Linked DNA regions of Homo sapiens. The protein of the gene in region 1 interacts with the protein of each later gene in a pairwise test. Each region holds a gene or a part of one and is shown in the gene's direction. Other genes may lie near its edges.

What was found.
Region 2: the proteins of PRKCH (region 1) and ZBTB8OS interact in a two-hybrid assay, tested with the Homo sapiens proteins (one large-scale study listed by BioGRID and IntAct).

Annotation. Positions count from the first base shown.
Region 1 is NC_000014.9:61,530,979-61,534,796, forward strand, and holds part of PRKCH (protein kinase C eta type), read left to right. Parts: intron 1-3,818. UniProt on the Homo sapiens protein: Calcium-independent, phospholipid- and diacylglycerol (DAG)-dependent serine/threonine-protein kinase that is involved in the regulation of cell differentiation in keratinocytes and pre-B cell receptor, mediates regulation of epithelial tight junction integrity and foam cell formation, and is required for glioblastoma proliferation and apoptosis prevention in MCF-7 cells.
Region 2 is NC_000001.11:32,640,329-32,644,146, reverse strand, and holds part of ZBTB8OS (protein archease), read left to right. Parts: intron 1-3,818. UniProt on the Homo sapiens protein: Component of the tRNA-splicing ligase complex required to facilitate the enzymatic turnover of catalytic subunit RTCB. Together with DDX1, acts by facilitating the guanylylation of RTCB, a key intermediate step in tRNA ligation.

The DNA of each region.
Region 1 (3,818 bases):
CTGTTGGCATCTTCAAGTTGCAGGATGAAGCGGTCGGGTCTTTCTCTTAGGGCTGGGAGAGGAGAAGGAAGGTTTTCCAAACCTCTGCAGATCTATTTTGCCTCCATGTTATTCTTATGAAAGCCGGGTGCCACGCCCAGGCTGCAGGTGCAATGTTGTAATGGATCATGTTGAGAAAGTCTTTTCTGTGTGTGCATTTAAGGCACTGTGCTGGATGCCTTTGAATTGAGGATAAACATGTACTGGACGCCTTTATGTTGAAAATAAAGTACATGTAATTTGGGTCAGTTCTGTAACCACATTAGTTGAGCTCCAAAATCATGTATTTTCACCTACTATATGCAGAGGGGTTGTAAAGGCAAATAAAAGATCAGTTTTTCAAGAAGGGATAAATCAGAACAATCTATATTCTGTTGGATAGTATCTATGGCATAAGAATTACTATCCTTAAGTTATATCCTTTCAGTAATTTGAGACAAAAGCAAAATGTGGGAAATATTTGCTATCTTGTTGAAAGACTTGTTTCTCTTTAGAAACTTCTAGCCCTATAATCAGTGCCATTTCAGGGACATTTTTTATGTGGGTCACTGTGTACTGGGGCTGAAGGCTTGATTGTCCCTGAGAATTCTCTACATCGCTAAAAGAGAAATAATCACAGAAATCCTTCTGAGGCAAATATTACCAAAGTGAATCATAACACATAGCTCAATCCTCAAGCTGAGGTGTCAGTACCCTCCTGAAACTGAGAAAGCACTAATTTCACAGAAATAAAAGCACAGTACTTTGGGATTCTACCAAATATCTCCTATCTAACATGTTTTTGTAAGAACAGTTCATTTGTTATATTAGTAGAAATTTTAGAGGAAACCATAAATATGGCTTTTATAATTTTATGGAAAAAAAAAGTCACAGAGAAGGGCCTGTCTTCGTGGATTTGTGCCATGAAGTTTCTTAACTTCCTGAAGGGAAATGTACTCACCTAGGTTGGCTGCAGCCAATTTTGATAACATAAACCATGATAACACAGCCTCATCGTGCTGCAGACGGAGGCGTACTTTGCATGATCACTTTCCTACTTCCATGGCCCAGCACCTGGCTTTTTGTAAAAAAGCATGCCAGCCTTCTGTGGCCTGCAACAGCCACCTTCATCATACTAATGGTTTTCCATGCTCCACATATTTAGTCCAATTACTGTAGCTGATTTAGTAGTTTTAATATTTAGATGAAGGACCCCACAGTTCATAATTCAAATTAAAATACTGGTTCAAGCCATAAAAAAAATGCCTGTTATCAGCATTGGTGTATAAAGGTCACTAGGCTTGGTACCATGAAGGGTAGGAAATAAAAGTCAGTCTATGCCTCAATAAATTTTTATATTCTCTAATATAAACACTGGATTAGCAATCCAGATCAGTGTTTCTCTGATAGATACCCTATGCCTTTTGAATCTAGGTCTAGTAGAAATCTTAAGAGGCCACATCACCATTTGAGTTGGACATTCCTAATTTTTTGTCTTTACATTTTTAGAAGTCCTCAACCTCATTCTCGTGTTTCAGAGTCCTCTTGAGAGAATGCTTTCCAACTAAATCTGAAACTAGGTATCATCCCCTTAGCCTAGAACCTAGGACAAGTACTAAGCAAGGTTAAGATTCCTATGGAATTTTTAAGACTTGTTTCTTTTTAACCGGGTGAGCTCAGTTACTTCAAGCTATATCTTTTATGTAAATATGGATATTTTTGGTAACGAGCAGATACACTGTCCAGTAATAGCCTCATGGTCTTTCCTCCAAGAGGAAACAGCCTCTGGTGCCTAAGGAGAATCGCATCCAGTGGAGACTGAGTTGTTCTCTCTCCTTGCAGGTTCACTTTTGGGAAGCTACAAGTCCCTTCACTTCTCTTTATTTCAGCTCCTTTCTCATGCCAGCTGCTCCACTGATGGAGGCAGCAGCTGCGATTGTTACATATCATGCGTCTAGCACTCATTTTCCTAAATAACACTCGACGCTCTCTCTGGGTATCTTCCACATAGGAAGGAGCAGGGGCTCTGGGCTCACAGTGCCGGGCCTGCCTCCCAGTCCTGTTACCTTCTGGCTGAGTGGCCTTGGTGAGCCTCTGTGCCTCTCTGAATCTCAGTGTCCTTGCTTGTAAAATAGAGGTAATAAAATCCATACCATAGGGTGATTGTCCAGATTATATGAAATAATATAGGTAAACTTCCCGGGCACATAATAAGCATTCTGTTTTTTCCTCCTTCAAGGCATGTACCTTCAATGTAATTTTCTTAAAAACACTTAAATGTTGTCAGATAAAATTACTAAAAAAAAAAAAATCACTAAGAGGATTTCTGGGATTTTTTTTTTTTTTTTGTGCATTTTACTCTCCATGCCTAAAAACAAGAAGCTTAAATGGTATAGATGAAAACATTCAGCTAGTCTTTGCAGGGGACTGAGACATTTAAATAGAAATGTGATCAAAGAGAAAAAAGAAATGTTCAGAGCACTCAAGACTTGAGGAGACACACTGAGGAGGGAAAGGCATCAGAATTGGGTTGGTTAAGAACCTGCCTCCAGAGCAGAGCTGCCTGGGGGCAGATCTTGGCTCTTTGACTAATAGGCTGTGTGACCTTGGGCAAATGGCATAATTCTTGCATGCCTTAGTTTCCTCTCCATTTCCTTGGGCAAATGGCCTAATTCTTCCATGCCTCAGCAGGTGGGGTGTACAACCCACAGGGCTACTGCGTGGTTGGCATGAGATAACATGTGTGGGTGCCTGAAGCAGTGCTTGGCACAGGGTACGTGCCCAGGAAGTGTCCTGCACTATTACTGCTGAGAGCTGCATGCATGAAATGATTTTTTTACACTCTGCCCTTATCTCTGAAAAAGTATTTGTCATATTAGGAGGAGGGTTCGAGATAGCAAGGTGTGCTATGCCAACCACTCAGGCTGCTTTCTGGCTCTAATTGCAACTTGATTTAATTAGGCCAATATAGTTATTTTACTACCAGAAGAAAACTTAGAGATTGTCCCTTCCAACCCCCTCGTTTTATAGATGAGGAAACCATGAGGTACTGAGAAATTGTGACTCATCAAAGGCCATTTAACACATTACTTAAATCAATTGGGGCCTTTGTGCACTGCTGATGAGGATGTAAAATGGTGTGGATAATGGTATGGTGGGAGGTTCTTCAGAAAATTAAGCAGAATTACCATATGATCTAGCACTTCTACTTCTGGATATTTACCCAAAAGAATTGAAAGTGGGAACTCTAATAGATATTTGTACACCCATGTCCATAGCAGCATTACGTACAATAGCCCGAAGGTGGAAGCAACCCATGTGTCCATCAACAGATGAATAGATAAGTAAGATGTGGTACGTGCACTCTGAACAAGCATTCATTTGGCTGCACAGGGCCAGATCAAGGTATACTGTGTTCTTTACCAATATTGACTTGACGCCTTTTTCCAGAATTTTGTGTCCACCTAAGATCAGGCTTTCTGGGAGCTTGGTGACTTCAAGAGTTCCTCATGTGAATAGTTGAATCCATTGGATGGTGTTTTGCATAGTTCTAAAAACAGTAGGGAAATCATGAGTGCTAAGTTTTGAACTGTAATTATTTGTCTTTGCCCTTAATTTTATAGAGCTTTGTGATCATTAGAGGCATAAACACAGAATTGTAGAGCTGGAAATAGTTTAAAAATATTTTGTCCACATTTCCTCATCTGTAGATGAGGAAACGGGCCCAGAGAGATGAAGGGACTTTACATGTTAGAATGGAAAGAACACACCCTAGACCTCATGTGACTTCTGCCACTGAT
Region 2 (3,818 bases), on another chromosome or scaffold:
GAACTGTTTACTTTCCTGTAACCATTTGTCCTTTTAACTTTTTGACTACTTTACTTCCGTAAAATTGTTTTAACTAGACCCCCCCTCCCCTTCCTAAACCAAGGTATAAAAGTTAATCAAGCCCCTTCCTTGGGGCCGAGAGAATTTTGAGCATTAGCCGTCTCTAGGTCGCCGGCTAATAAAAGACTCTTAATTTGTCTCAAAGTGTGGCGTTTTTCTAACTCGCTTGGGTACAACAAGGCCAAGGTGGAAGGATCACTTGAAGCTAGGAGTTTGAGCAACCTGTGCAACCTAGTGAGACCCCCATCTTTTTAATAGAAAAAGAAAAAAAAAAGTAAAAAAAATTAGCTGGGGCCAGGCATGGTGGCTCACGCCTGTAATCCCAGCACTTTGGGAGGCTGAGGCAGGCGGATTACGAGGTCAGGAGTTCAAGACCAGCCTGGCCAACATAGTGAAACCCCCTCTCTACTAAAAATACAAAAAATTAGCCCAGTGTGGTGGTGCACGCCTGTAGTCGTAGCTACTCGGGAGGCTGAGGCAGGAGAATAGCTTGAACCCGGGAGGCAGGGGTTGTGGTGAGCCGAGATCATGCCACTGCACTCCAGCCTGGGCCACAGTCCCAGCTACCTAGAGGCTGAGGCAGGAGGGATCTCTTGAGCCCAGGAGGTCAAGGCTGCTGTGAGCCATGATTGTGCCACTGTACTCCACCTTGGTAGACAGTGAGAACCCATCTCTTTAAAGAAAAAAAAACCAAAAACTAAAACAAAAACTAAAGGCCAAGTGCAGTGGCTAATATCTGTAATCCCAGTACTTTGGGAGGCCAAGGCGGGTGAATCACCTGAGGTCGGGGGTTCGAGACCAGCCTGACAAACATGGAGAAACCCCCGTCTCTACTAAAAATACAAAAAATTAGCCATGCGTGGTGGTGCATCCCTGTAATCCCAGTTACTTGGGAGGCTGAGGCAGGAGAATCGCTTGAACCTGGGAGGCAGAGGTTGCAGTGAGCGGAGATCGTGCCATTGTACTCCAGCCTGGGAAACAAGAGCGAAACTCTATCTCAAAAAAAAAAAAAAAAAGGCCAGGCACGGTGGCTCACGTCTGTAATTCCAGCATTTTGGGAGGCCGAGGCCCGCAGATCACCTGAGGTCAAGGGTTTGAGACCAGCCTGGCCAACATGGTGAAACTCTGTCTCTACTAAAAATACAAAAATTAGCCGTGCGTGGTGGCGCGTGACTGTAATCCCAGCTACTCCGGAGGCTGAGAGCAGGAGAATCCCTTGAATCTGGGAGGCGGAGGTTGCAGTGAGCTAAAATTGGACCATTGCACTCCAGCCTGGACGACAGAGGAAACTCCATTTGAAAAAAAAAAAAAAAAAAAAAGACCTAGAATTGATGGAAAGGGAATGTTCTGGTTAAGATAAAAGATTGTGGAGAACAAAGTTCTTTTGAAGTCCTATAGTGGCTGCCCTTAGAGACAATAGAAGACAAATGTTTCCTATTCAGATGTTAGTTAACATCTTTAGGATTGGGAGGGTCTGGAAGAAAAAGATCTAGCTATGTTAATAGAGATTCTTTACGGATGCAAATTCTCCCCCAGAAAGAACAGCTTTGCCGGGCCATTTCTTTTTTTTTCTTTTTTTTTTTGAGACAGAGTCTCGCTCTGTCACCCAGGCTGGAATGCAGTGGCACCATCTTGGCTCACTGCAACCTCTGTCTCCTGGGTTCAAGCAATTCTCCTACCTCACCCTCCCGAGTAGCTGGGATTACAGGTGCCTGCCACTACGCCCAGCTAATTTTTGCATTTTTAGTAGATACGGGGTTTCACCACGTTGGCCAGGCTGGTCTTGAACTCCTGATCTCAGGTGATTTGCCTGCCTTGGCCTCCCAAAGTGCTGGGATTACAGGTATGAACCACCGCGCCCGGCCCTGGCCATTTCAAAATATGGCAAAGAAACATGCTTTGGGGTAAAATATTTTGATTTTCTTCCTTGTGTTGTATCTTGTAATTTTATGCCAGACTCAGGTTAGAAAGTAAGTCACGATGTATAGGGTTAAATAAAATACTTCTGAAGAGAATTTGTGATTTGTAGGGCATGACTCCCCAAACCCCTTAGATAGGAATTTGGGCAAGATAAAAAAAAATCAGAGTTTAGTTGTCATAATATTCTATGTAACAAAATTGGAAGTATGTACAAAGGTTTTGTTTTGTTTTGTTTTGTTTGAGACAGTCTCGCTCTGTCACCCAGGCTGGAGTGCTGGAGTGCAGTGGCACAATCTCGGCTCACTGCAACCTCCGTCTCCCGGGTTCACGCCATTCTCCCGCCTCAGCCTCCTGAGTAGCTGGGACTACAGGCGCCAGCCACCATGCCCGGCTAATTTTTTTTTTTTTGTATTTTTTAGTAGAGACGGGGTTTCACCATGTTAGCCAGAATGGTCTCGATCTGCTGATCTCGTGATCCGCCCGCCTCGGCCTCCCAAAGTGCTGGGATTACAGGTGTGAGCCACCGTGCCCGGCCTGTATAAAGTACTTTTGTGGCATGTTAAGTGTTGATTACTTGTGGAAAAGAACAATAATTGGCCGGGCGCGGTGGCTCATGCCTGTAATCCCAGCACTTTGGGAGGCCGAGGCGGTGGATCACCTGAGATTGGGAGTTCGAGACCAGCCTGACCAACATGGAGAAACCCCATCTCTACTAAAAATACAAAATTAGCCCGGCGTGGAGGTGCATCCCTGTAATCCCAGCTACTCAGGAGGCTGAGGCAGGAGAATTGTTTGAACCCAGTAGGCAGATGTTTTGGTGAGCTGAGATCGCGCCATTGCACTCCAGCCTGGGCAACAAGAGCAAAATCTGTCTCAAAAAAAAAAAAAAAAAAAAAAAAAACTTGTGTAATTGAGTTGTGAGCTGAACTAGGTCCGTTTTTCATGGAACACTTTTTCTTGAAAGAATGAAAGACATGCTTTTGTTATTCAGACTTCAGTATTTGGCTTGCTCTATTGCCCAGGCTGGAGAGCAGTGGCACGATCTCGGCTTACTGCAACCTCCACCTTCTAGGTTCAAGGGATTCTTCTGCCTCGGCCTCCCGATTAGCTGGGATTACAGGCCCCACCACCATGCCCAGCTAATTTTTTTTTTTTTGTATTTTTAGTAGAGACAGGGTTTCACCGTGTTGGCCAGGCTGGTCTTGAACTCCTGACCTCAGGTGATCGGCCCACCTCGGCCTCCCAAAGTGTTGGGATTACAGGTGTGGGCCTCCACACCCTTGAAAGTGAACAGTGATCTGTCACATCAAGGAAAATAGCTGACAATATTTGTTGATAATGGTAAAATTCAAGTCCAGTTAAAATTTTCAGGCCTGATGAGCTTAATCTCAGCACTTTGGGAGGCCAAGGGGGACAGATGGCTTGAGCCCATAAGTTCGAGACCAGCCTGGGCAACGTGGCAAAACCCTGTCTCTTACAAAACATTAACTAGGTGTGGTGGTGCGTGTCTGTAGTCCTTACCACTTGGGAGACTTGAGGCAGAAGTATCACTTGGACCTTGGAGGTCTAAGCTGTAGTGAGCTGTGATTGTGCCACTGCACTTCAGCCTGGATGACGGAGTGAGACTCCGTCTCAAAAAAGAAAACAAAAAGATTCATTCTAAGTGCATAATAGATCAATGGATTTTAATTTTACAATATGGTAAGTTCATTGTGATGGTTACAGAATCCACATTGCAACTAACGTTGAAAAAACTACCATGTTTTGGCCGGTGCGGTGGCTCATGCCTGTAATCCCAGCACTTTGGGAGGCCGAGAGGGGTGGATTGCCTGAGGTCA